Linked DNA regions of Homo sapiens. The protein of the gene in region 3 purifies or fractionates together with the protein of the main gene of each other region. This does not show direct contact. Each region holds a gene or a part of one and is shown on either strand. Other genes may lie near its edges.

Evidence for each region.
Region 1: the proteins of NEK4 (region 3) and DNAJA2 purify together in Homo sapiens (affinity purification with mass spectrometry; 2 studies listed by BioGRID and IntAct, with this or other methods). This does not show direct contact.
Region 2: the proteins of NEK4 (region 3) and TUFM purify together in Homo sapiens (affinity purification with mass spectrometry; 2 studies listed by BioGRID and IntAct, with this or other methods). This does not show direct contact.
Region 4: the proteins of NEK4 (region 3) and PDGFRA purify together in Homo sapiens (affinity purification with mass spectrometry; 2 studies listed by BioGRID and IntAct, with this or other methods). This does not show direct contact.

Annotation. Positions count from the first base shown.
Region 1 is NC_000016.10:46,956,663-46,963,685, forward strand, and holds part of DNAJA2 (dnaJ homolog subfamily A member 2), read right to left. Parts: intron 2,758-7,023; coding exon 2,613-2,757; intron 2,469-2,612; coding exon 2,341-2,468; intron 559-2,340; coding exon 367-558; 3' UTR 1-366. UniProt on the Homo sapiens protein: Co-chaperone of Hsc70. Stimulates ATP hydrolysis and the folding of unfolded proteins mediated by HSPA1A/B (in vitro).
Region 2 is NC_000016.10:28,843,334-28,850,206, reverse strand, and holds the start of TUFM (elongation factor Tu, mitochondrial isoform 1 precursor), read left to right. Parts: upstream 1-3,858; 5' UTR 3,859-3,937; coding exon 3,938-3,989; intron 3,990-4,100; coding exon 4,101-4,295; intron 4,296-4,726; coding exon 4,727-4,893; intron 4,894-5,151; coding exon 5,152-5,256; intron 5,257-5,344; coding exon 5,345-5,509; intron 5,510-5,655; coding exon 5,656-5,788; intron 5,789-5,872; coding exon 5,873-5,977; intron 5,978-6,105; coding exon 6,106-6,257; exon of another isoform or gene 6,258-6,288; intron 6,289-6,351; coding exon 6,352-6,471; intron 6,472-6,873. UniProt on the Homo sapiens protein: GTP hydrolase that promotes the GTP-dependent binding of aminoacyl-tRNA to the A-site of ribosomes during protein biosynthesis. Also plays a role in the regulation of autophagy and innate immunity.
Region 3 is NC_000003.12:52,767,919-52,775,554, forward strand, and holds the start of NEK4 (serine/threonine-protein kinase Nek4), read right to left. Parts: upstream 3,023-7,636; 5' UTR 2,829-3,022; coding exon 2,736-2,828; intron 687-2,735; coding exon 420-686; intron 1-419. UniProt on the Homo sapiens protein: Protein kinase that seems to act exclusively upon threonine residues. Required for normal entry into proliferative arrest after a limited number of cell divisions, also called replicative senescence.
Region 4 is NC_000004.12:54,274,293-54,281,315, reverse strand, and holds part of PDGFRA (platelet-derived growth factor receptor alpha isoform 1 precursor), read right to left. Parts: intron 6,786-7,023; coding exon 6,691-6,785; intron 6,476-6,690; coding exon 6,343-6,475; intron 3,929-6,342; coding exon 3,824-3,928; intron 3,421-3,823; coding exon 3,310-3,420; intron 2,955-3,309; coding exon 2,801-2,954; intron 1,001-2,800; coding exon 834-1,000; intron 1-833. UniProt on the Homo sapiens protein: Tyrosine-protein kinase that acts as a cell-surface receptor for PDGFA, PDGFB and PDGFC and plays an essential role in the regulation of embryonic development, cell proliferation, survival and chemotaxis.

The DNA.
Region 1 (7,023 bases), on a different chromosome or scaffold from region 3:
AAATTGTACAAACTTTACAATGTGGGATTTAAATTTAAAATATGAAACATAAAAATCTACACAAAACTGATAAAAATCAAGCACAGATACCAGGATTGAAACTTATAATAATCCATGTGTGAAAGGGAGTCTTGTTTCCTTTCAAGTGCTTTATTCTGCTATGGAACAGTCAAAATGAAGATGTAAAGCTTTGTGGTTAGTTTAAATTATACACTCTGTAGATACTATACCAATTTTAAAAGTTATACATAGACCAACAGATGTCCCTCAGTTCATCTGGATTGATAAGACACTCCAGCTGGATTGCTGAGAACAAATCAGGCAAATGTGGAAAGAAAATCCACCTGTGCAATTTGTTTGCAGAGTTTACTGATGGGCACACTGCACTCCAGGTCCATGATGGCTGCTGCTTTCTTCATCAGAGCTATCATTATAGGCTTCACGCCTCTGACCACCTCCTGAGCCTCGAGTGCTATCAAATTCCTGAAGCTCTACCTCCTCTGTTTCTCCAATTATGTTAGGAACTTCCGGTCTAGATGGCAGAAGATCTTCTAGTTCCTTTATTAAAACAAACAAAAACCAGGTTGGTTGTAATATTTTCATCAACTTTCCTTTTGATACATAGAATCCAGTGTCTGTTTAAGAGTTTAAAAAGGGGCTGGGTGTGGTGGTTCATGCTTATAATCCCACCCAGCACTTTGGAAGGCTGAGGCGGGCGGATAATGAGGTCAGGAGATGAGACCAGCCTGGACAACATGGTGAAGCCTTGTCTCTACTAAAAATACAAAAAATTAGCCAGGCATGGTGGTGGGTACCTGTAATCCTAGCTAGTCAGAAGGCTGAGGCAGGAGAATCGCTTGAACCTGGGAGGTGGAAGTTGCAGTAAGCTGAGATTGTGCCACTGCACTCCAGCCTGGGTGACAGAGCAAGACTCCATCTCAAAAAAAAAAAAGTTAAAAAAAGGAATGTGGACTGGACTTTGAACTCTAAGTAAAAGATCACAAACTCATCACTCACAGGCCAAATTCTGCAGACATCTTTTGTGCAACCCATCTATTGCTTTAAGAACCAAAAAAAAGGTCATTATCTGCCAATACTTAAACATTAGAAAGTTTCTACAGGAGACACACCTTCCTGCATCCGGCATGGACACCAGCTTACGATAAAGGGGTAGTGGTCCTGCCCTCTGCAAATGAGGAACCTGTTCTCTCCAGGGAGTGCTACTCCTCATCACCACCCACACCGGGTCTACTTTACTCCTCTACAATTCCCTGCTTGGCCCCATCAACATTTACACCAGCAATACCCCATTTCCTAACAACTAGGAAAGCCTACCAATCACACAAATATACTTTAAAATTGAAAGTAACATGACTATTAAGAAACTTGAAGTCGGCTGGGTGCAGTGGCTCACGACTGCAATCCCAGAACTTCGGGAGGCAGGAGGATTGCTTGAGACCAGTCTGGACAACATAGCAACATCTCTATAAAAAGTTTTAAAAAGCATTAGCCAGGTGTGGTGGTACACACCCGTAGCAAGCCATGATCATGCCACTGCACGCCAGCCTGGGCAACAGAGCGAGACTCTCTTAAAAAGAAAGAAACTTGGCTGGGTGCAGTGGCTCACGCCTGTAATCCCAGCACTTTGGGAGGCCGAGGCAGGTGGATCATGAGGTCAGGAGATCGAGACCATCGATCTAACATGGCTAACATGGTGAAACCCTGTCTCTAACTAAAAATACAAAAACAAAATTAGCGGGGCGTGGTGGCGGGTGCCTGCAGTCCCAGCTACTTGGGAGGCTGAGGCAGGAGAATGGCATGAACCCAGGAGGTGGAGCTTGCAGTGAGCTGAGATCGTGCCACTGCACTCAAGCCTGGGTGACAGAGCAAGACTCCATCTCAAAAAAAAAAACAAAAACAAACAAACAAAAAAACCCCATAAACAAACAAACAACAACAACAACAAACTTACCAGGCATCGTGGCTCATGCCTGTAATCCCAGCTACTTGGGTGGCTAAGGCATGAGAATCACTTGAACCTGGGAGGCGGGGGGTACAGTGAGCCGAGACTACACCACTGCACTCCAGCTTGGGTGACACAGTGAGACTGTGTCTCAAAAAATTTTTTTTAAATTAGCCAGGCATGGCAACACACACCTGTAGTCCCAGCTCCTTGGGGGCTGAGGTGAGAGGATCGCTTCAGCCCAGGAGGTCGAGGCTGCAGTGAGCCACGATCACACCACTACACCCCAGCCTGGGTGACAGAGACCCTGTCTAAAAAACCAAAAACCGAACTCCAAACTTGGAAGTCAACTGTTGTTTAATTTAAAGAACACTTACAGAAAGCTTGTCTGGGTTGATCCAGTTGTTTTCAGGAAACTGCACATCAAACTTTATGTAAAGATCACCTTTTTCAAAGGGATTACGATACTGCGGCATCCCTTCACCTCGAACTACACGAACACACCCTATTATTTAAGAGGAAATGATTAATAATTTTACCCAAAAGAGGTGTTCAATTTTTTTTAGAGTTATGCAGTATAAAAAAATTACAAATTGTAATTTTTTTCAAAAATACTTGAAAACCAGAATCGGACAAAATCAAGATTTACCTGGTTCAATTACTTTGCCAGGGGGGTATTTCACCACAATCTGACGTCCATCAAGGTGCTTAAATGTGAACTGAAATCCACATAGAGCTTCAACAAGTCCTATTTTATATGTCATGTGCAAATCATTCCCATCTCTCTGAAATACCTATAAATAAAGCACAAAAGAAATACATTTTCTTAAAAATTATGGAGGTACACCCTGCAGCATTATGTTCCTTGACTTAATTTCAAAACCTTATTTCTACCACTCACTGCAAATCCAAAGTGCCACTGTCCCTAGTGCCCTAAACCGCATTAGGAAAGCTAGCTATTCCCAAGTAGTATGTGAGAAACTTCCATGAGGAAGGTGTACTGGAACTGGTAAACAATGGCATATATAAGAGCAACAGAACTGAGGCCCTCAAAACAGTGCCAGGTATATTCTGCAACTATTGCCCACTTTCAGACTCTGCCTCTGGTGAAAAAGGTACAGAATGCCCAGAGGGCTCCTACAGAACAGGCTCACCCTGGAGTGCTCCCCAGACATGATCGTAACAGGGAAGGGGGGAGGGTCCAAGATCAACATAAAACCCAACATCAACCAGTTAACACCCAGCCAGCAAAGTCAAGTGGCTCAATTCCGTGCTTCACACACATACCAACAAGTCTCACATCTCACTAAAATGCAAAACTGGCTCATTCAATATTACACTATAAGCCTATGGACTAGGTAATGCAAAAGGTATTGAGAATAAGCACAAAGAATGTTTCTGAGCCTTCAATGTGTAGGAAAAATACATCCAACTTCACACGCCCAACCTGCAATTTTTGCTTAGATTTTACAATGGTCACTCTTCTTGTAAAGAACAATCCTGGCCGGTTCACTTATAGAAAATCTGGTAGACAGGTTCTTTTCCTATGTTACTCTCCTAAATTTACTCATTAAACAAAGTTAAACCATTACCTTAACCAATGATTCTCTAAGTGTGGTTCTGGACCAGCAGCTTCAGGAAACTTGTTAGGAACACATATTCTTGGGCCCCACTTCCATTCCTGCCAGAAACAAGGCAGGCAAGATCCAGCATCTGTAGTCCTAACAAGCCCTCCAGGCAATTCTTGTGTGTGTGCTAAAGTTTGAGATCCAAGAAGGTATGTTATGTATGCACATATATTCAAGTGTTCCTCACAATGGGACCAATAGTTTTTTTAATGCAGGATTTTTCAACGCATTAAAAATGCTAAGTAGGCCAGGTGCAGTGGCTCACACCTGTAATCCCAGCACTTTGGGAGGCCAAGGCAGGCGGATCACAAGGTCAGGAGTTCAAGACCAGCCTGGCCAATATGGTGAAACCCCATCTCTACTAAAAATACAAAAATTAGCCAGGTGTGGTGGCACGCGCCTGTAGTCCCAGCTACTTAGGAGGCTGCGGCAGGAGAATCACTTGAACCTGGGAGGCGGAGGCTGCAGTGAACCAAGATCACACCACTGCACTCCAGCCTGGGCGACACAGCGAGACTCCATCTCAATAAGAAAAAAATAAAAAAATTTAAAAAAGCTAAATATAGGGTCAGAGCTTTGGGAGGCCAGTTCAAAACAGCAACATAGGGAGACAAAAAATTAAAACATAAACTAGGCTAGTTGAGGCAGGACGATCCCTTGAGCCCAGGATTTGGAGCCTGCAGGGGCAGTCCCTCCTCATTAATGATCCAGCCACTGCACTCCAGCCTGGGAGACAGAAGGACATCCTGTCTCTTAAACATAATAATAATAAATTTAAAATAAATGCTAAGTATACTGTAAAATGCCAGTGTTCTAAGAACCATCTTACCAAATATCCTTTGTTAAAGTCATACTATTTTAGGATGCATGCAGTGGCTCATGCCTATAATCCCAGCACTTTGGGAGGCTGAGGCAGGTGGATCACCTGAGGTCCTGGTCATCATGGCGAAATTCTGTCTCTACTAAAAATACAAAAACTAGCTGGGTGTGGTGGCATGAGCCTGTAGTCCCAGCTACTTGGGAGGCTGAGGCAGGAGAATCACTTGAACCCGGGAGGTGGAGGTTGCAGTGAACAGAGATCGCGCCACTGCACTCCAGCCTGGGTGACAGAGTGAGACCCCATTTCAAAAATAAAAACAAAAATAAAAAGTGGGGCAGGGCACGGTGGCTCACACCTATAATCCTAGCACTTTGGGAGGCCGAGGTAGGCAGATCACTTGAGGTCAGGAGTTTGAGACCAGCCTGGGCAACATGATGAAACCCCATCTCTACTAAAAATACAATTGCGCCACTACACTCCAGTCTGGGTGACAGGGCAAGACTGTCTCAAAAAAAAAAAAAAGAAAAGGGAACAGGAAGAGATACACATCACGTTCTTGTACAGGAGAGTTCAACTGAAAGTGATTTCAATAAAAAATGATTATGATTATCAGGATGGTTGTTGCAGCAGAGCGGGGAAGCTAAACAATTTGATGTTAAAAGTTTAAACAGAATAAACAAGCAAGGATGCCAGAGAGTTTCTGAAAAACAAGATTAATGAGGAGGGACCACCAAGCACTAGACCAGAAAACACTTAGAAGTCATATTTCTGAATAACAAAAGTACAGGTTATAGAGGCGTGACTAACATCACCAGGTTCTGTGGTTTGATGCTGTACAAGTGCACTATGGTAACCAGACCACCGAGACACACAAACAGGCACACTGACAAGTGACATGGCAGGATGATGACTATAGATGATACAGCACTCCCAAGAAGGAACGAGACAAACTTCCATTCTAACCTTTACCATCTTCTATTTTCTACTTTAGACAACTAGCTACATCTGCCTTCTGTTGAAAATTCCATGCCAATTCCACTGCTGCCAACAATTTTCAGAGATGAGTTACTTCCCAACACCTCCCCACAGGCCCCAAGAAAGAAGCTTATTCATAATCTCATTTGACTCTTTAATATCCAAAAAGTCCAGGGAAGCCAAAGCTAGTAAACGGGGCCCAGACCTTAAGTCCTTTGCCTCCAAATCCAATGATCTACTTTTAAAAACCCAATTTAATTATGCAGCAACATTAAAAACTAAACTTAGGGATAAAAAAGGTTTTACCATCAGTTTGACATGCCTCAAACCAAAAAAAAGTCATCCTTCCTCTGCAAATAAGCATTCCTTCTTCACTTCCTATCATGCTGCTGCACTGCCAGACATCATTTGACAACGAACCCCAAACGACTCCAAGGATTCTATCAATGAAAATGCCCAGGCACTGTCTGTACCATTTTACAACACAGTCTAACCTCCAAGCAGAATTTCCAATTATTTAGCTGTCTTGCTAGCTTTCTCCCTCATATTCCTGGTATGGTGGTGTGCACAGCAGCAAGACTGAAGGAACAAGGAAGTAGCTAAAATGTTAACAAATAGCAAATCTTGTAAATATTTCATTCTACAAGACCCAAAGGCAGAATTCTAAAAACTACTCTTACTTTTTGACAACCGAGGAGACGTTTGCTATCTGTAGGGTTGGCAATTTCCACAAAAAGCCAAAATACATAATTTGTAGCTTTGCTGAGTCATGAAAGCTGACTAGCATGCCCTGATTGTCCAGGAGATCAAGTCTGACCTTGTGAGGGATTACTACCAAATTCCTAAAACCTGCATCTCAATATGGCTTTGTTGTTCTCTATTGGATTCTTAAAGTGATTTTTAAAATTTACTCTATTTGAAGAAATGATCACCACAGAAGGACGATCTCCTTCTTTATCAAATATAACCTTTAAATTATAAATGATAATCAGCTTGCCCACCTTTTTAGAATTAAAAAGAATAACCTTTCACTGAACATAATACAAATTTACCATTTCTCCGTGTTCATTGGGCTTATGCATAGGAGAAAATTTTAGGGCAAACTAAAAAGGTGGTTAACCTGTGATGTAATGATTTTCAGAGGAACACATGAGTAAATGTGATCAAGTACAAAGCTAGAGTCCTATCAAGTGCTTCTAACATTCAAGAATTTAGGTGATTACTGGAGGGGTTTTTCATGAATAGTTCCAGATTTATTCTTTGAGTAGGGTCTACAGTATACAATATGGACATTAAAAATATACAAGTGCAATGTTAAAATCAAAATAACATACACTAGGCTGGGCACTGTGGCTCACACCTGTAATCCCAGCACTTTGGGAAGTTGAGACAGGAGGATCGCTTGAGCTCAGAAGTTCAAAACCAGCCTGGGCAATATGGCAAGACCCTGTCTCTACTAAAAATACAAAAAAAAAAAAAACCCCAAAAAACAAACAAACAAAAAAATAGATGGGCATGATGGTGCACCAGTTGTCCCAGCTACTTGGGAGGCTGAGATGGGAGGATTGCTTGGGCCCAGGGGCGAAGGTTGCAGTGATCCCAGATCACACCACTGTACTCCAGCCAGGGCGACAGAG
Region 2 (6,873 bases), on a different chromosome or scaffold from region 3:
ATTAGTTCTCCAGTTTGCCCCACAATTCTGTAAGCTGCCTAATACCCTTAACAAATCCCTCCTCTGCTTAAGCCAGCCAATGTAAAATCTGTTATCTGTAAGTCAAGACTTCTGACTGAGCCATTCACTAATACAGAGGATGCTACGGTCAACAGCTCTAGAAAAAATTTTCTCTGGGCTCTTTTCCGAACACCGTGTTTCTCAAACTCTAGCCATTCATTCACTACCTTCCAAAAAATTTGCCATATATTCATACCACACATAATAGTTTTTATTTTATTTTTGAGACAGAGTCTCGCTCTGTCACCCAGGCTGGAGTACAATGGCGTGATATCGGCTCACTGCAACCTCCGCCTCCTGGGTTCAAGCGATTCTCCTGCTTCAGCCTCCTGAGTAGCTGAGACTACAGGCGTGCACCATGCCCAGGTAATTTTGTATTTTTAGTAAAGACGGGATTTCACCATGTTGGCCAGGCTGGTCTCGAACTCCTGGCCTCAAGTGATCCGCCTGCCTCGACCTCCCAAAGTGCTGGGATTATAGGTGTGAGCCATTGTGCCCAGTGCATCCATAATATTATCTACCAAACAATATTCTTTTAAGTTGATCTGTTTTTTTAAAAACTTGATTATTATGCCAGTTTTTTTTCAAGCTAATACACATTAAAATAAATATAGCACCACAAAAATATAAACCATTAATTCAAATACCACCCCCAAAAACTCATAACTTGCTAGTGGCCAATAGTGTCTTAGGATAAATTCCTAGGAGTACAGTGACTTAGGTACAGAGTAGAAACAGAAAACCCTTTTAGGCTGGGCACAGTGGCTCATGCCTGTAATCCCAGCATTTTGAGAGGCCAAGGTGGGCAGACGGCTTGGGCCCCGGTATTGGGAGACCAGCCTGGCCAACATGGCGAAACCCCATCTCTACAAAAAATACAAAAATTAGCCAGGTGTGGTGGTGTATGCTTGTAATCCCAGCTATTTGGGAGGCTGAGGTAGATTGAGCTTGGGAGGCTGAAGCTGCAGTGAGCTGTGACTGCCCTACTATGCTCCAGCCTAGGAGACCCAGCAAGGCTCTGTCAAAAAAACAAAAACAAAATCTGTTTATACTACACATGATACCAGCCTTTCCTAAGCAGAACTGATTAACTGGAGGGCCAGGAAGAGAGAAGTCTTAGCAAGTTCCTCACTTTATCTGAGCAGTAAAATGAGAGTTAAATTATAGTACAGTCTGGCTGGGCATGGTGGCTCACACCTATAATCCCAGCATTTTGGGAGGCCAAGGTGGGTGGATCACTTGAGGTCAGGAGTTCAAGACCAGCCTGGCCAATATGGTGAAACCCCGTCTCTATTAAAAATACAAAAATTAGCTGGGCGTGGTGGCAGGCGCCTGTAATCCCAGCTACTCGGGAGGCTGAGGCAGGAGAATCGCTTGAACCTGGGAGATGGAGGTTGCAGTGAGCCGAGATCGTGTCACTGCACTCCAGCTGGGCAACAGAGTGTGACTCTGTCTCAAAAAAAAAAAAAAAAAAAAAAGGACAGTGCGGTGTGCACACTTTTTGGGGTTTAGTGGTGGTGGATTCCTTAATCACCCTGACCGTCAGTTTTCACACCTGCAAAATGGAGGAAATAATAGTTCCTACTACCCAGGGTAGCACTGGGAGCGCTGATTGTGAAACAATAGGAATGCCTGAACATCATAAAGCTCTAGTTCAGAGTTTCCTAAACTCCTCTGAGTTTTCATTTGAAAAAAAATTTTTTTTTTTGGAGACGGAGTCTCGCTGTGTCGCCCAGGGTGGAGTGCAGTGGCACCATCTCAGCTCACTGCAAGCTCCGCCTCCCGGGTGCAAACAATTATCCTGCCTCAGCCTCCTGAGTAGCTGGTACTACAGGTGCACACTGCCACGCCCAGCTAATTTTTTGTATTTTAGTAGAGACAGAGTTTCACCGTGTTGCCCAGGCTGTTCTCGAACTCCTGAACTCAAGCAATCCACCCGCCCGGCCTCCCAAAGTGCTAGGATTACAGGTGTGAGCCACCACGCCTGGCCAAAATATTTTTATAGAGATGGGGTCTTTCTTGGCTGAGCGTGGTAGCTCACGCCTGTAGTCCCAGCACTTTGGGAGGCCACAATGGGCGGATCACTTGAGGTCTGGAGTTCGAGAGCCGTCTGGCCAACGAGGTGAAACCCCATCTGTACTAAAAATACTAAAATTAGCCAGGCGTGGTGGCACATGCCTGTAGTCCCAGCTACTCAGGAGGCTGAGGTGGGAGAATTGCTTCAACCCAGGAGGTGGAGGTTGCAGTGAGCCGAGATCGCCCCATTGCACTCCAGCCTGGGCGACAGAGTGAGACTCTGTCTCCAAAAAAAAAAAAAAAAAAAAAAAAAAGATGGGGTCTTTCTCTGTCACTCACGGTGGGGTGCAGTGTCATGATCATACCTCACCACAGCCTTGAACTCCTGAGCTCAGGCGATCCTCCTGCCTCGGCCTCCTGAGTAGGAGGGGCTATAGCTGCATGCTACTGTGCCTGGCTAATTTTAAATTTTTTTTTGTAGAGATAGGGTCTCCTAATCTGCCCAGGCTGGTCTTGAACTCCTGGCTTCAAACCGTCCTCCCACCTCAGCCTCCCAAACTGCTGGGACTATAGGCTGGCACTATAGCCACCGTGCCCAGCCTCTTCTCAGTTTTAGAAGAGTGTTTGTTATATAGCTTCCCAGTCTGTGCATAGACCCCACGGAATCATAACCTCCAGGGGAGGAATTAGGGAATCTATTTGAAACAAACACTGTCCACTGAGTCTCAGGATCTGATGAGTTCCGAAACATTAGCCAGGGTTAAGCAGCCATAATTAACACTTTGGAGTGCCCTGTGGAAGCTGCCATGAGATGATGGATGTGAAAGTTAAGGGACATTGACTACCCTTGCACCCATTCATTCAACATTCACTGCATGCTCCACCCTGTTAGGTGCTGGGGACACCGACAGATTAAAGGAGACTCAGGCTCCCCTTAAAGGCTCCCCTAGCTGGCTCCTCATCCTTGGCTCCTCATCTGCAAAATTAGATGGGTGGGGCGATGCCCAACGGAACTGCTCCTTAGGCTGCTGAGGGACTACAGGGGTGGGCAGCGAAGCTGTCTGTCTTGTGGGCTCTGGCCCTGTGAGGTCTAGCAGTACAGGGTCCCCGCAAGCTGCCTGACCTCACAGGGCCCAACACTGACTCCTACCCAGTTCATCTCCTCTCAGGGCTAGATGTCAGGCTCTCCCTATGAAGTGGATACTACTATTCCCATTTTACAGATTAGAAAACAAAGTCTCAGCGAAGAGGGAGGTCACACTTCACCCCATCCCCGAAAGGCGTCCAGGACCTGGTCCCCTACCTCCAGCTGCGGCAGAGGCGGCCAGATATCTCGCAAGACCCGCGTAGCGAGTCGGACTCCGGGGGACTCGGGGTCTCTCTCTGCCGGGCCCAGGAGGAGGTTCCTGAGCAGTCGGAGCCGCAGCTGCCTCCCGGAGCCCGAGCCCCTCCCTCCGGGTCCGGCCTAGCCCGCCTGACTCCCACTCTGATCACCTCCACAGCCCGCCGACCTGAGAACTACTACGCCCATGAGCCTTCGCGGCGCCGGTGATTTAGGGGACGCTCCTCAGTGCCCCCTGCGACCGCCAGAGAGAACTACGTTGCCCCTCAGCCCGAGAGGCGCGAGTGGTGGAAAACCTCTCCATCATACTCCGCCCTCGAGACACCAGCCCCCTCCATGACGTCTTCAGCCGCGCGCCCGACGTCGGCTGAGACGGCCATAGACACTGGCGGCTAGAGGGGCCCGGACTTGCCCTCCCAGCTCTAACTTCCGCCGGAAGTGCCTTCCAGCCGCAGGCGCCCTTCTTCTTCTGTGCGCTCGGGCTCCTGGTCCCGGCTCCCCGGTTACCGGGGCGCGAGTATGACCACAATGGCGGCCGCCACCCTGCTGCGCGCGACGCCCCACTTCAGCGGTGAGTGGTCAGGGAGGGCGATGGCGGCCCAGGAACACTTTGGGGGAGTGGTAGGTGGCTGGGTTCGGTCTGACCCCTTCCCTGCCTGACTCCAAGCTTCGGTCCCGGCAGGTCTCGCCGCCGGCCGGACCTTCCTGCTGCAGGGTCTGTTGCGGCTGCTGAAAGCCCCGGCATTGCCTCTCTTGTGCCGCGGCCTGGCCGTGGAGGCCAAGAAGACTTACGTGCGCGACAAGCCACATGTGAATGTGGGTACCATCGGCCATGTGGACCACGGGAAGACCACGCTGACTGCAGCCATCACGAAGAGTGAGTGGGGTTGGGGCGTCCAGCAGCGCCCTATCTACTGATGGGACCTGGAGCCAGGGAGGCAAGGCCAGCAGAGTGTCTGCTGGAGGAGTTTACTGTGGCCCCAAGAGCCCGAATTTGTGCGACAGGTGGATTGGGAGATGCAAGAGACAAATTTCTCCTGAACAGGAAGAACTTTGTGATCCACCAATGGCTTGGGGATCACAAAGTCGTGGGGAATGCTCTGCAAGCAGAGGCTGTACCCTAAAGAAGTCACAGGGCAGACCCTTAAGGCCCTCTAACATTTCTTTCTGACCCACAGTTCTCTCTGCTGGAAGAGTTAGAGATTGGAGGAGGTTATGTATTTAGGTGGGAGGGTTCAGGGGCGTGGTCTAAGCTCTGCCTCTAGCACTGGAACTTTAGCTGAGAGGTGTGTTCTTTTCCTCCTTTAGTTCTAGCTGAGGGAGGTGGGGCTAAGTTCAAGAAGTACGAGGAGATTGACAATGCCCCGGAGGAGCGAGCTCGGGGTATCACCATCAATGCGGCTCATGTGGAGTATAGCACTGCCGCCCGCCACTACGCCCACACAGACTGCCCGGGTCATGCAGATTATGTTAAGGTGAGGGTTGCTGGGACACTGGAGACAGGGCCAGAAGCTGCCTCTTGTCAGGATAAATGTTAGGCTTGTGGGGAGGAGATTAAGATATTCAGTGTTTGGGTATGAGATGGCAGGTTTGTGGTCTTGGCCACGCAGAATGGGTGGTGAGGAGATGGTAGAGAAAGGTGGGCCTGAGTTTCTAACTGCTACACTTGGCTATATGGATGTGAACTGAAGAGCTCGTTGAACTTGGCTGTTTCCTTTCCTTCTCCTCTCCAGAATATGATCACAGGCACTGCACCCCTCGACGGCTGCATCCTGGTGGTAGCAGCCAATGACGGCCCCATGCCCCAGACCCGAGAGCACTTATTACTGGCCAGACAGGTACTCAGAGCCTGGGTAAGGATGCAAAAGGGAAGAGTGGGGAGTTGGGCCCCTCTGTATATTGTCCCTGTCTCTCTGGCATCTACAGATTGGGGTGGAGCATGTGGTGGTGTATGTGAACAAGGCTGACGCTGTCCAGGACTCTGAGATGGTGGAACTGGTGGAACTGGAGATCCGGGAGCTGCTCACCGAGTTTGGCTATAAAGGGGAGGAGACCCCAGTCATCGTAGGCTCTGCTCTCTGTGCCCTTGAGGTGAACGCGGGGTCAGGCAGGGCAGCTGCTGCAGAGGGTGGGGCTGGATGGGCACCCAGAGCTCTGCTTTGTGTCTGGGAAGTGGCTCTTGATAATCGAGGGAAGTAGAATGGGGATTTCAGAGTCCTGGCACTTCCCCTCAACAGGGTCGGGACCCTGAGTTAGGCCTGAAGTCTGTGCAGAAGCTACTGGATGCTGTGGACACTTACATCCCAGTGCCCGCCCGGGACCTGGAGAAGCCTTTCCTGCTGCCTGTGGAGGCGGTGTACTCCGTCCCTGGTGAGGACTCTGTCTGTTCCCACGCACTCTCTCTAGCAGAAGCCTAGCTCGGGGTCCCTGATATCCTGTCTTATTCCCTCCCAGGCCGTGGCACCGTGGTGACAGGTACACTAGAGCGTGGCATTTTAAAGAAGGGAGACGAGTGTGAGCTCCTAGGACATAGCAAGAACATCCGCACTGTGGTGACAGGTTTGGGAAGCCAGTCTGGAGAGCAGGGCCTGGCTGAAGGGTGGCCTTACCCCGGCAGATCCCTTGTGCCTTCCCTCTGTCTCACATTCGCCTTCCTTCTCCCTGCTCCTTTTCCCTTTCCGTCCTAGGCATTGAGATGTTCCACAAGAGCCTGGAGAGGGCCGAGGCCGGAGATAACCTCGGGGCCCTGGTCCGAGGCTTGAAGCGGGAGGACTTGCGGCGGGGCCTGGTCATGGTCAAGCCAGGTTCCATCAAGCCCCACCAGAAGGTGGAGGCCCAGGTGAGGGCTCCAGGTGACGGTGGGCAGGGTTGAGCCAAGCTCTCCCCAGCCTCCAGCCAAGCCCAGCTCACCGTCATTGCTTGCTCTCCTCCAGGTTTACATCCTCAGCAAGGAGGAAGGTGGCCGCCACAAGCCCTTTGTGTCCCACTTCATGCCTGTCATGTTCTCCCTGACTTGGGACATGGCCTGTCGGATTATCCTGCCCCCAGAGAAGGTACGGTGGGTGGGAGGAATGTAGGGTGGAGGGGGGACTTTTTATATTACCTTTGCTTCACTCATAGTTCCAAAGATACACTGTGACAACCCGAGTGGCTTTATTTCCTTAGGTGGAAAGGGGCTGCTTGCCGCTGCTAGCCAACAGAAGGGGCATGGCCCATGGACTTAGGGGCGGGAGTCCTCATCCAGTGTGCCCTAAGCTGAAGCAGGTTAAAAGTTTAGCTCTGCCAGCATGTACCCACAGAAAGATTTCCTAGAAAAGGTCTCTTCTTTTTGAGCGTTTCATTATATATGAAGGCTTAAGAAGTTCTGTGACCAAGAAACCTGCATAACCCACAACTTCCTAGACATTTTTTTCTCAAGAACATACCTTAGGAACACTCATCACTGGTCTCTTTTA
Region 3 (7,636 bases):
AGAAAACTTGTTTTGCATTCCCATCTACTGTACCCCAGCAGACTGACAGATGAAATCACTGGGCATATCAATTAGCCTAGCCACCTTTCAGCATGACACGACTGACCAATGGATAACAAACATAGTCACTCTATGCTCTTGGTTGCCTCAGGGTCCTTAAAATTGACTTTGCTATAAATGGTAATTGAGTGGGCTTCCCCTGCAATCAGACATGAAATCTATGTCTATTTTAATATAGGTATCACTTACTTAGAAAAGTTCCAATGCTACAGAAAGAGTGACTGGGTCAACTTCACAAATGAATTTTCCAAAAAATACATTTCTATATGTAAGTATCTGAAGAAAAATTTTCCTAAAATACACCTGCCATCTTCTTGCCATCTGGGAACAAGCTAGGATGCTATTAGTCTACACAGTACCTGCAAAGCCATGGCGATCTGTACAAACCACTCTACCACCTGATTCTCAGGCAGAAGCTGCCCTTTCTGCTCCTTGAGCTTTCGGTACAAATCACCTCCTTCACAGAAGCCCATGACAATGTAGAGCAGACCATCTCCTCCTTCCCATGACTCCTTGTAGGTGACAATGTTGGGATGCTTCAACTGAGACAAGAGCTGGGCTTCCTGTTCAGCAGCTCGCCGCTCTCGGCTAGAGGCATTTCGGAGGTTCAGTTTTTTGATGACATACTAAAAACAAACCATGTATTTTTACAATGTGCAAATAAACGTAAGATTTGTGGCCTCAGAGTTATCTAAGGGCTCTCAAGAATACCCTCAAAACCAACCTTGTGGAGCCTGTCAGATAACCTATTCATTTTGTTTTTCACCAAGCACAAAATCGGGGAAAATATTTGCTATTATTGATACTTCTTATAAGTTAGATTTATAGCAGTGTAGGGCCACAAAAATTACCTTTCCCATCTGCATTTCACAATTTCATTAATGACTAAAAAAAGTGAGTTCAAGATAACATACCATTGGATCAATTATAAAACCTGTGTTAGCAATTCCTTAATATCTGGCCATACACAGTGGCTCACACCTGTAATCCCAGCACTTTGGGAGGGTGAGGCGGGTGGATCACCTGAGGTCAGGAGTTCAAGACCAGCCTGGTCAACATGGTGAAACCTGTCTCTACTAAAAATACAAAAATTAGCCCGGCGTGGTGGTGTGTACCCATAGTCCCAGCAACTCGGGAGGCTGACACAGGAGAATTGCTTGAACCTGGGAGGCAGTAGTTGCAGCAGTGAGCCAACATCGCACCACTGCACTCCAGCCTGGGAGGCAGAGCAAGACTCTGTCTCAAAAAAAATAAAAAATAAAAAAAGAAATTCCTTAATATCTAAGCTCTCCCAAAAAGGTGAATAAAATATAGCTTGACTATACATTTGCAGACAGAATAGTCTGTGGATTACGTTAGATACTCAAAGGGATCCATGGCCCCATAAGTTTAATAGTCACTGATCTTCAGCATACAAAATTATTCACACTTAAAAGAAATCAATAGCCTCTAATACCTAATACATTGCCCTCAATCATTTCAAAGACCATACAATTCATTTCTTCAACACATAGATAAATGTGTTTTGTGAAGTGTAAACTAAAGCTCAAATAACTAGCTATTGCTAGTTCCCTATCATCAGCCCCAAAATCCAATGATTCCCCCAATGCCTACTGAATAAATTTCTTATGCATGAGCTTGTGTTCCACGCAAAGCAACTAGCACCAGAGACAAGGAAGAACAGGCAATTGGGCCCTATATTTAGGGGGAACATCTCTTCTCAGCTTGCCTGGAGCAGTCCTACTGTCCTGGTGTAACTATTAATAATGCCTTTCAGTTTCAAAATTGTCCCAGTTTGTACATTATATTGTCACCCTATTAATAAACCACATTGAATAATTGGTTCATTATCCTGAGAGTAATGGGATAAAGTGTTTTAAACAGAGGAGTGACAACATCAGATTTAAATTTGAGAAAGATCACTGAGGCTGCAGTGAAAGTGATGGATTGGAGAAAAGCAAGTCAAGTGGCGGCGACCAGTTGGGAAACCGTGGCCATAGCTTTGCTAGAGACAACAGGGTGTCCTGGATTGGGGTGGTAGCAGTAGAGATGAGAGGAGGCCTATTGTCTTAGTGATAGATGAATATAATCAGTGTTGGGGTGCGTGGGGAGGCTTAAAAATGACTCCAGGTGTCCGGCTTGGGCAACTGGTGGGTTGGTGTCACTATTCACTGAAACGGAAGACATGAGAGAAGGTTTGGCGGGAAGAAAATGAGTCGAGTTTTAAGTGAATCCAGCAGTCTACAGTAGAGACGTTTGGGGCCCTTCATTCAAGGAATAATGCTTGCTAGGCGCTGTATTAAGTCCTGGGAATGCATGATACCGGCTCTCATGAGAGTATCGGGGTTGGGAGAAAGGTGTGTAGATCACGCATGCCAATTAGTACAACAAAGAAGTAGATAGGCAGAGACTGAAAATTTTTACATAAAACTTAGAATTGTAATTAAAGAAAATGAAAATTAAAAGGAAAAAAATTTAACACAACAAAGAAGTAGAAGTAGTTCTGGGCGCATATTACAGGGAGGCCAGGCCTCGTCTTGGTCTGGGACCATTTCCCTGAGGAAACGCCATCCGAGATGAGCCTCTTGCGACCACCCCCGACCTAATCTACCGGTCGGCGCCCTCGGCGCACTTCTGCCCGCCCCCGCCCCTTGCCGGGCCCCACCCCTGCAGACCTGCTTGCCGTCCCGCCGGTGCTTCACAAGCGTCACCTCTCCATAGCTCCCCTTGCCCACGACCCGCAGGTAGCAGTAGGCGGCCAGGGGCATGTTCCCAGCGCTGGCCCAGAGTCGGGATGCGGCGGCAGCGGCGGGTAGGGCAGCGGGCGGCAACAAGAAGCTCGGTTCATGCCCGAGAGGGGGCAGTGGGGGCGGCTGTTGAGGCAGCCGGGCCCGGGCGGGATTGCTGGGGCCCGGCCCGCGACGACGCCGCTGCCATAGCGATCCGGGCCGGGAGCAGTTCTGCGCATGCTCCTGCGTCCCCAAAGGACGGCCATAGAGCGGACGCCACGAGCGGCCAGAGAGGTTCCGCAGCCCCGGGAGGACCCGCCATAGAGCAGAGGCTCCAGGAGGCCAGAGCGACTCCGCCAGGCTCCGCGCACTTTCTGTGCGTCCGTTCCACCGTCCGGATCCCCGCCACAACAGAGTCAGGGAAAGCTTCCTCTTTTTGTGCACTTGTTTGTCCTAAGGCCGTTACAAGTATTGTTCGTTCATTCTGCAAATATTTGTTGACCGCCTATGTGCCAGGCCAACAAAGTCCCTGCCCTCCTGGAGCTCATGTTCTAATGACTGGGTGACAGACTCTCTACCAGTAACATTTGCTGTATCCGCTTTATCACATGCCGTCTCTGCATCCAGCAATCCATCCTATTTTTTGATACATTCAAAGTAAATTATCAGTACCTTTCATCCCTAAAAACTCGCCTGCTAATTGAGAACTACAAAGACTCCTCAGCATTTAACGACTACCCTAACCACTGCACTAAGAGACTTGACTAAACTCTAACATGGCATCATGCTAAGTTAACAGCCTAAGGGCGGATCTCTAGGTGGGCCTAGGCCCCTTTAAAATGCCTGCCCAAGAAAGCTCAGGGGTGCCAAAAGAATTCACCATTTGTTCCAGCCAAAGCCTCCCTTTCCCAGAGCGCTTCCTTTTTTTCCTTTTTTTTTTTTTTTTTTTTTTTTGAGACAGGGTCTCGCCCTGCCACCCAGCTTGGAGTGCAGTGGTGCAATGGTGCTCACTGCTGCCTAGACTTCCTGGGCTCAAGCCATCCTCCCAACTACAGGCACACACGTCCATGCCTGGCTAATCCTATTTTATTTTTTTTCAGAGACAGGGTGTCACTATGTTCCCCAGACCGGTCTTGAACTCCTCGGCTCAAGCAATTCACCCACGTTGGCCTCCCAAAATGCCGTTATTACAGGTGTGCGCCATCGTGCCTGGCCTCTTTCCTTTTTATGGCCAAATAATATTCCATTATATGTATACACCACAATTTGTTTATCCATTCATGCAGTCATGGACACGGATAGCTTCCATCTTTTGGCTATTGTGAATAATTCGGCTATGAACATGGGTGTACGAATATCTGTTTGAGTCCCTGCTTTCTTTTTAATTCATTTGGGTATACACTCAGAAGTGAAATTGCTGGATCATATGCTAATTCTAGTTTAATGTATTGAGAAACCACCACACCATTTTTTACAGCAAGCTGAACCATTTTACATTCCCATTAGCAATCCACAGGGGTTCAAATTTCTCCTCATCCTTGATATATATCTTGATAGGAGATTTGGGTGTATGAATTTGTCAAAATTATCTAATGGTACATTTAGTATTTGCACATTTTACTCAAAGCAATTTCATCTTCACTAGAAAACCAAACAAAAAGAACCATAAATAAAGATTGAACTCTAGTTAATGATATTATTAAAGATAAACAAAGCCAGGCATTAAAATGATGAAAATAGATTTTATTCAGTAACTACTGACAGTAGGGGAAGCAGCTGAACTCCATTCCATTTGCGCAGGGGTGATTGGGCATTCCAAAGGAAGAATAAGGGAGTAGGCAGGGGAGCATGCAGGGGCTCACTTAGAGTCTGGGAAGTGAAAAATTAAAAGGAGTGCTTAGCGTAAATGTGATTAGGCCAACTGTGTCTGCTAGCTGGCAATTAGGGAAGTTAGGATTCTATTCTCCCACATAGACTGGGAGACATGAGCCCTACCTTTATGATGATTACATTCCAAAGGAATGGATTTCAGGTCCTTGAGAAAGACATTCCTAGGTTGTAGGAAATACATAGGTATATATCTCAGAGGGACAGAGGAAGGATTTGTAATTGTAGCTTTTTAAAGTTAGTGCTCTAGAGGCCACACACTATGACTCACACCTAATCCCAGCACTTTGAGAGGCCAAGGTGGGAGGATCACTTGAGACCAGCCTACGAAACACAGTGAGACCCCCTTCTCTACAAAAAATTTTTAAAATTAGCTGGGTGTGGTGGCGCATGCCTGTAGTCCCAGCTACCTGGGAGGCTGAGGTGGGAGAATCAGTTGAGCCTCGGAGGTTGAGGCTGCAGTGAGCCATGATCCTGCCACTGCACTCCAGCTGAGTGACAGAGTGAGACTCTGTCTCAAAATAAATAAATTTTTAAAAAGGAAGGATGTTCTGACATGCTACAACATGGACGACCCCTGAGGACATTATGCTAAACAAAATAAGGCAGTCACAGAGGACAAAAGTATGATTTCGCTTATGTGAGGTACCTGTAGTAGTCAAAGTCATAGATTCAGAAAGTAGAATGGTGGTTGCCAGTTGTTGGAGAGAGGAGGGAATTGGTGGTTGGTGTTTAATGGGTGCAGAGTTTTAGCTGGGGAAAATGAAAAAGTCCTGGAGATGGATGGTGGTGATGGATGCAAAACATGAATGTACTTATGCCACCGAACTGTATTCTTAAAAATGGTTAAATAATAAATTTTATGTTTTGTATATTTTACCACAATAAAAAATTATGGCACACTGCTCCTGTAATCCCAGCTACTCAGGAGGCCGAGGCATGAGAATCACGTGAACCCGGGAGGCGGAGATTGCATTGGGCCAAGATCATGTCACTGCACTCCAGCCTGGGCGACAGAGCAATACTCCTTCTAAAAAAAAAAAAAAAAAAAAAAACCTATCATTCATTCTACAGACATTTAGCAAGGGTCTACTAGCCTGGACCTGGAGGACAACTATGAACAAGACAGACAAGGGCCTGCCCATGTGGGGCTTACTGTCGAAGAGGGAGACGGCCATGCATACTAACAAGCTACCCTTGCCAACTGAGGTCAGTACTGTTCAGAAAAGCCGCCAGGCCCAGCCTGGCCATCCAGGAGAGGTTGCCCCAAGCAAGCACCGCATGAGTGGAAGTTTAAACAAAAACTTTTTCAGGCAGAGGAGCAACATGTGCTAAGATCCAGTGGATTCATTTTGTGACTTTACCTCCACACCGCAATGTGAACTCCCTGAGGACGAGGCCAGGCCTGTCTGCTTCAACACCCTAAACCCAGCAGGTATAAATGAAGGAATTGCCGCTTGCTGAATGAATGAATGGAGAAGCACCTGCCTACCTGGATCTAAAAGAAGTCTCTGCAGTTGAAGCTGAGAGACTCAGAGGGGCCATGGGCTAGGTGACATAGAGGGGTCAGCAGGGGCCATACCACTCAGGATAGGGTGTGCGAGACAGGGAAAGGCCTGCGGCAGACTGACCTTTCTAAATGGTGACTCTGGCTGCTGCCTGGAGCAGAGCAGAAGGAGGAGATGAGCCGTCTAAATGAGGGATGAGGGCAGCTTGAACTAGGTGGTGACGGGGGATGGGGAGAGAAGTTAATGGATTAGAGGGATATTCAGAGGGTGGGAGGTGGGGTAGGTGGTCAAGGAGACTGAGGCACCCAGGATGCCACCCAGCCTTCTGGCTTGGATGGCCAACTAGATGGCGGTGGCCTTGACTGGAGTGGACAACAGGGGGAAGATCTGGCTTAGTAACGGGGTGTGGGGAGGAGGAGACAAAGGTCAGGAGTTCAGTTTGGACATACCAGATGGAGGGGCTGTGGGCACATCAAGCAGACAGTTGGCTGTGTGTGGGTGGCGCTCAGAGCAGGTCTGGGCCCATGTGCTGTCCCACCGGCACCAGCAGCACAGCTACACTCCCCATTCTCAATCCTCAGCAACCATAGCTGCTTTCTGTCCACCCTGGCCCCCACCTCCCACATGCATATGGTGGGCCAACGTCTCTTTCTCTGTACCATGAGGATAATAGTAACAATAATATCTGTCTCTTGTGGGGAGTTGTGAGCAGTAAATGAATTCGGACGTGATGCTAAGAAGCATGACAGGCACAGGTCATAGTTAGCTCTCCCCATCTCCTGTCCACCCTCCCCCTGTGCAAACATGCTTCTAGCACTTTACATGGACCAGGCTTGGTGCTAGCCATCTCTCAACAGCCCAGTCTTGAACTCATCACACCCTTGCTTAAAATATCTTAAGTATCTCCCACCCAAAAGGCTAATCACTTTCAGACCCCTGCGCCAGCTGGTCCCAACCCCCTTCCCAGCCACCTTCCCTACCCTCTTCATCAGCTCCTGCTCCCATCCCAGACACCTCTACCTTCCCACAGCATACATCCCACCTGCCCGTCTGCTTTTCTCTCCCTCCCTTCCCGCCTTCCCCTTCCCAAGCACTGCTCTTTTTTCCAGGCACCTCATCCAGGAACCTTCTCCTAATCCCTGCAGGAGATGAGCCTCTGCCCCTCCAAATTTCTATCTCTTCAGCTTCTCATCACTCCTTGGGATTCAGTGGGCTCCCTTTGACTTGTCTGATTCCCTTTTCCCCTGACATCAGCTCACTGAACACAGCAGGGCACTCAGGTTTCTGTATGGTGGCCTCTCAGTGCCTGGCATTGTGCCCAACACACTGCAGGGCTTGGTCGATACTGGTGCAGGAAATAAGCAGAACTTCAAATGTACACTGTCATGTCGATCCAGCTTCTCTTCTACAAAGGCCAGAAGACAGGCCAGAAGGTGACCGTGGCCTAAGGAC
Region 4 (7,023 bases), on a different chromosome or scaffold from region 3:
CCAGGGCAGCTCAACACTTTTTTGCATTGACTAATGGGAAGGCTCAGACCCAAAAAGGCAAGCTCACAGGACAAGCCAATGTCAGACTTCCAGCTTCATGTCTGTGACCAGTTCAGGGCTCTGGAGGAACCACCCTGAGCAGATGTGAAGTGATCCATCTGGTCTGGGCATCAGCTGGACTCCCTGGAGTTTATAAATCAATTTAACCCTGCCACATATTCATGTACTTGAAAAACAGATAGACCCACCTTCAAAATACATTCAACAGAAACACTGGTCCAGAAAATATAACTGCAAATTATCTACTCTAGAGTTCCTATCACAAATTGAATGTTAGGAAAAGTAAAAGCAAGGGTTACTGAACTCATAGACATCAGAGACTTCTAAAACTTAAGGGAAAAAAAGCAAGGTGAGGAACCAACATAAGACAGCCAACTTGTAATTCTGCCAAGTAAGGGCATTAAAAAAAATCAATCACCATATTTTCATTAAAAAAGAAAAAGACAGCAATAAAAAAGGAAGTTCATTATATCAGAATAAATAATTATTTTTTTTAAAAAATGTTTACTGCAGGAACACACCAAGAAAATTCTTTAAAACTATTAAATTTAAAGTTTAAAAAATTTGTTACATTGTCAGCTTTTATTCTTTTCAATTTACAGGCCACAAACCTGGAAACATGTCACAGAACTGGTTGTGCAGACCTGCATTTAGAGACCACGTGGGCTGCCAGGTTCACTTACCATCCCTATACACTTCCCTCTAAATACTTTAAGTATCATATTAAACCACTGGAAAGTCCCAACACCCAGAGTGAGTATAGACACTTTTACCTAACATAGATTTCTTCTTATATGAGGCTGGACGATCATAGAGTGATCTCTGGATGTCGGAATATTTAGAAACCTCTTTCCTTTCTAGCATGGGGACATACTGTGTAGTATCAGCCTGCTTCATGTCCATGTAGTCACCATTGTTTTCAAAAGATAAAATAACATAGCTGTAAAAACAGAAAGAGAAATCTTACCCAGGGTGCCCTTCTGAAGTGGTCATTCCACTTTCAGTAGATGATGATTATGTGCCAGGTACTGAGGTAGGCATGGGAGCTAACTGGGTAAAAGCAAAACCAATCCATACCTTTCACATGAGGTGATCTAGTCAAGGAAATGAGCATTAATCAAATAGTCGCACAAATACATGCATCACAGCAATTCCACTACTGGGTATCTACCAGAGGAAAGGAAGTCATACTAAAAAGATACTTGCACACACATGTTTATAGCAGCACAATTCACATATTGAAAAAATGTGGAACCAACCCCAAATGCCCATCAATCAAGGAGTGGATAAAGAAACTGCAGTGTATCTATACATATGTATGTGTAGGTGTGCATATATATATATATATATGTAACTCAGCTATAAAAAGGAATGAATTAATGGCTTTTGCAGCAACCTGGATGGGATTAGAGACTATTATTCTAAGTGAAGTAACTCAGAAATGGAAACCAAACATCGTACGTTCTCACTCATAAGTGAGAGCTAAGCTATGAGGATGCAAAGGCATAAGAATGACACAATGGACTTGGGGACTCGGGGAAAAATTGAGAGGCAGGTGAGGGATAAAAGACTACAAACTGGGTTCAGTGTATACTGCTCCAGTGATGGGTGCACCAAAATCTCACAAATCACCACTGAAGAATTTACTCATGTAACCAAATACCACTTGTTCCCCAAAAACCTATGGAAATAAAAAAATTTTTTAAATAGGGAAAAAAAGAAATGTAAAAAACAAAATAAATACACAGATCAACTCAAACTCAGCTGTGTTGTGAAGGAAGAAAGGTTTCAATAGCTTGTAAGGAAAATGACTTGATCTGGGGGTCAAGGAAGCACTTTTCAGAAGACGTAGAATGGATCCCACTGACAAAGATGGGAAAGACTAGCGGAATATTTGTCATGGCACCTGGCACATACAAAGGACTCCACAAATGTCAGCTGCCATGATGACTACTGTTCACTTGTTTTCAGAGCCAGTTCCCTGCACATCCTTAGCAGGAGCCCGCACATCCTGAAGAGCCACATCTAAGACAGTGGGGCTGTGCTCCCATGGACCTGTAAGTCCATTACACTTAAAGTTTGAAGAATTCACTACGTTAAGTCTGTCATTATTCTTTCTCAGTTTTTCAACTCACAAGCCTTGGTTGGAACTTGAGCCGTGTGGCCATGTGGCTTGGGCATACAATTCCTTCTACCCAATCAATTTAGCACCCATTTGGTGTCCACCAAGTAATTTATTATGAAGTGAATTCATTGTACTTTCTGATCTTACAGAATTTCTTACCTACAGAGTTCTTTATAGCCACTTGTAGATTTCTGCAGTAGGGATCACTATCATTGACGTCATTTATAGGTCCAGGTTCAGCAAGGACCTCGAGCTTGGAGATCCACAGACAGTTCTTGCAAGGTTCCAGAACTCAAGCATCCCTGGCCAGAGCTGCATTTTATAGGTCTAAGTGGATCACATGTAAATAGCAGAAGAGCTCCCAGAGTCATTCTAACTCACTCTCATTCAAACCTATCAGCAAGGCCTTCCCATGTGACACCCCAGTCCAAAACACCTTTAGACATCATGCATCTCTCTGCATGACCATGGAAAGACTGGACAGGGTGGTTTGACTCTAAGTCTTGCTACCTTGGGCACTGAATCTGCAGACATGATATCTATCAGGACATGGGTCTTTCCATTTGTGATGCCTGTAAGATAATGATAGACAGCAACATCTCTCTTTGCACCCACCTCCGTGTGCTTTCATCAGCAGGGTTCAATCCAAAGATATCCAGCTCTTTCTTTGGCTTCTCTGGGTGGTGGCTCAGGAAGCTATCCCTATTCTTATGCAAATAGTTGACCAAATCTCCATAGAAGCAATACTCTGTGATGATGTAAATGGGGCCTATGGGGACAAAAGCCGTTAGGAGATGGGTATGAAAATGAAGAACAGAAAAGCCATGAATTGTCCTGCAGACCATATGGCACAGAAAAAAATAAGATACCAAAAAAGTTTTTTTTTTTTTTTTTTTTTTTTTTTTTTAATAAAGAGCCATGAATGGCTATGACTGGACTGGCAACAGATTTTGCTCAAAAACCAATGAGCTTCCATCAATTCAAGGGACCAGTCAGCTCCATTCAAGGGACTTCTATTCCCTGCCATGTGTGGGGATGGAGAGTGGAGGATTTAAGCCTGATTGAACAGTTTTCACAACCACATGTGTCCAGTGAAAATCCTCACTCCAGGTCAGTGAGCCCACCTGACTTGGTGCAGGCTCCCAGCAAGTTTACAATGTTCAAATGTGGCCCCAGGTGAGTCATTATCTTCAGTTCAGACATGAGAGCTTGTTTTTCACTGGATCTGGCCGTGGCTGTTGAAAGAATAAATCACATATCAGTCCAGCTGAGCTACCAACTTCCTGTTCTCAGAAAAAAACCAAGAATATGACTAATCCTGTGATTGGATATCATTCTATTTACCAGAAGTCTAAAAGAAGCAGATAGCTACTTGGCCTCAGTGCTAATAACTAATTCCTGGTCTTTCTAGTAAAAAGAAGTCACTGGAAATAACAAGCTCTTAATTTTCCAACATACAGGCAGCAAGAGCAATCTAAATAAACCTAATCTAAATACACATAAAACCTGGAGTCAAAATAATCAGGACCTAGTCCTAAATGTCTTATTTACTAGCTGCATGATTTTGAGAAATTCCCTTAATATCCCCATGCTCAAAAAATCCCCGTGCTCAAAAAATCCCCAGGAAGGAGCACTTACGTTTTAGCATCTTCACTGCAACTTTCATGACAGGTTGGGACCGGCTTAATCCATAGGCTGTTCCTTCAACCACCTTCCCAAACGCTCCAGACCCCAAGACCCGACCTGTGGGCAGGCAGAATCATTAACACCCAAAAACTCCAGACGCCTCCTCAGCTTTCTGCACCGTAGCCAGCTCTCTGCGGGCGGACAGCTGGGCGAGTGTCTTTCCTGTTTGGAGTAATCATAATGACTCCTCCAAGTCATCGTGTCAAAAAAGGAATTGAGCCCACAGGGAAGGAAATTAGCATAATTGCTTTTGTCGAATAACACTTGCAAGGGAAAGAAAACACAGACGGGAGAAAGGAGGGTGCAGCCCTCCCTGGTGTGAGCGCGCTGTCTACCAGCTCCGTGCTGGGCCAGCCCCTGGGATCCTCTTGCCTTCGGGGCTCTCACCCACACCTCCTGGCTCTCTCCCCTTCTGTTTTCCATATGCAAACAGGGGCATCTTTTGTCTTAGTAAATTACTAGCCACTGGAAATACTTCAGTATTCAAAATATCACTGATTCTAAGGAGTGACTAAATAAAAACTTCAGGCTGGGCTCACTGCTCCCTATTTGTTAGGAAAGCCACTCTACCAAGAGCTAAACATGCCCGAGAGCACAGCAATTAGCTTCATGTTGGGAGGAGACATACGTAAAGACACTGAAGCTGTTGTCCCACCCTGAAAGAGCTCACCCTGAGAGAAACATTTCCCGGGGTGTCAGTCTCACCACGGATAGCCAAGCCAGGAAAAGACTTGGCTCATAAAAGACACTAACAGCCAACACTGCCTCTTACTGCACGTCTGTGTTACTGAAAATCGTACCTGGAAAGGTATTGCTTCACCAGCAATGCCTCTTGGTATAATGGGAATTATGCCCTTTTCCCCATATTTTACTACTTTTTAACTCCCTAAGCTCCTCATCCCTTGTTGGGAAATAGGCAGGAAAATAAAGAAAGCTTAGATATAAATATTTGAAATTGGGGGGCAGCTCTTATAACCGCCCCATGGATTCTCCTTGTCCGCTGCCTAGACAGAGCCGATTTACCAAGACAGGGGAATTGCAATAGAAAAAGGGTTTAATTCACACAGAGCCAGCTGTACGGGAGACCTATTCTACTATTACTACTATTACTCGAATCAGTGTCTCTGAAACTGGGGGAATTTCTACTATTCTGCTATTACTCAAATCAGTGTCTCTGAAACTGGGGGAATGGGGTTTTTAAGGATGATTTGGTGGGTAGGGGGTGAAAAGGGGAGTGCTGATTGGTTGGGTCAAAGATGAAATTATAGGGAGCTGATGCTGTCCTCTTGCACTGAGTCAGTTCCTAGGTAGGGGCCCCAAGATCAGATGAGCCAGTTTATTGACCTGGGTGGTGTCAGCTGGTGCATCGAAATACAGGGTCTCCAAAATATCTCAAGCACTGACCTCAGGTTTTACAACAGTGACCCCTAAACCATACTTTCTAATCTTGTAGCTAATTCGTTAGTCCCGCAAAGGCAGTCTAGTTCCCAGGGAAAAAGAGGGTTTGTTTTGGCAAAGGGCTATTATTGTCTTTTTTTCAAAGTCAAACTATAAACTAAGTTCCTCTCAAAGTTAGTTCGGCCTATGCCCAGGAAGGAACAAGGACAACTTGGAGGCTAAAGCAAAATGGAGTTGGTTAGGTCATATCTCATTCACTGTCATAATTTCCTCAGTTACAATTTTTGCAAAGGTGATTTCACTCTGGTGCCTTGCTTGATTTCAGTTTACCTAACTCTCTAAGAAGACTTAAACTCTTCTGTATTTTGCAATGAGACCGGTGGATAATTAAAACCTGCATTTGGCATTCTTTAACATATATACTGTTAGATCATTCATCATAACACAACCTCTACCTCTACTTTCATTTGCCTTTGTCTTGCTTTCATTCATTAGGAATGTGATTTAAAAAAGAAATACTCCCTTGGACTAAAGCTTCATATACTTGGTCTCAGCCCAGGATTGAAATACTTGAAATGCTTGTGATAAGTTGGCTTGCTTATTTTTACATATTTTGCCTCAAAATGTACCTATATTTTTATATTCCATATTCCAAATATGTAAAAAGGAGTATCTAATGCATCTTCAGAATGTACTGAATCAAAATACATTTTGTGGTTGTCCTCATTCATTTCTCATCTGCTCATTTTTAGTCACAGAAATTCATTTTCAATTTGTGTCATTTCTAAAGAAAAGCAATTTTGGTGGGTATCTTTGCCAGCCCTCTTCATATTCTCTTCTCCCTTTGTAAAATTTTCCTTAACTATAATTTGTTATGGAAAGAGATTTAAAAAAATCATTGCAATGATCCAATTAACTTACTGTCAAGACAGAAATGTATTTCTGAAAGCAAATTTCCATTGCCTAGTTCTTACTAAGCACAAGCTCAGATCTCTATTCTGCCAAGGCCTATAAATTGTAAAGTTGTGTGCAAGGGAAAAGGGAGTCTTGGGAGGTTACCCCATGGAACTTACCAAGCACTAGTCCATCTCTTGGAAACTCCCATCTTGAGTCATAAGGCAGCTGCATCGGGTCCACATAAATATATTCATGTCCATCTGGGCTGATTGATTCAATGACCCTCCAGCGAATTTCATACCTCGGTTTCTATAAATGACCAGGACAGGTAACTGGTGAATTACCAAAGTCCCAGTGCACCAGAGCTTCACTGAAGCAGCACAGTGACTGGACACAGTAGAGTCCAACAACGTTCACTCCACATGTAATTGCTGAGCTCCTTCTCTGTGCCAAGCACTGAACTAGGTTGCTATGCTTGTTCTCATTGGCTTCAAAGATCTTTAGTTTTATGAGAAAATATCTACCTGTTTCCAAATGACAACCAGGACAATAAGTGAGATGATCACAATCACCAACAGCACCAGGACTGCAGCAGCCACCGTGAGTTCAGAACGCAGGGCTACGTGACAAGAGAGAGAGGCACAATGAAAAGTTTCCTGGCAGACATGCACAGGGGCAGCAAGGTAGTGTGGCTGTGTCTGAGCCAGGAATCTCTCACTGCTGGTGGGGAAGTGTGAGGGCTGCCTGGTTCATTTTAGGGATAGGCAGTACCATCTCTCAAACCATCTACACCCAGGAAACTACATCAACTCTTTCCTTATACAAGAAGGGGACAAAATTCAATCAGGAGAACTCAG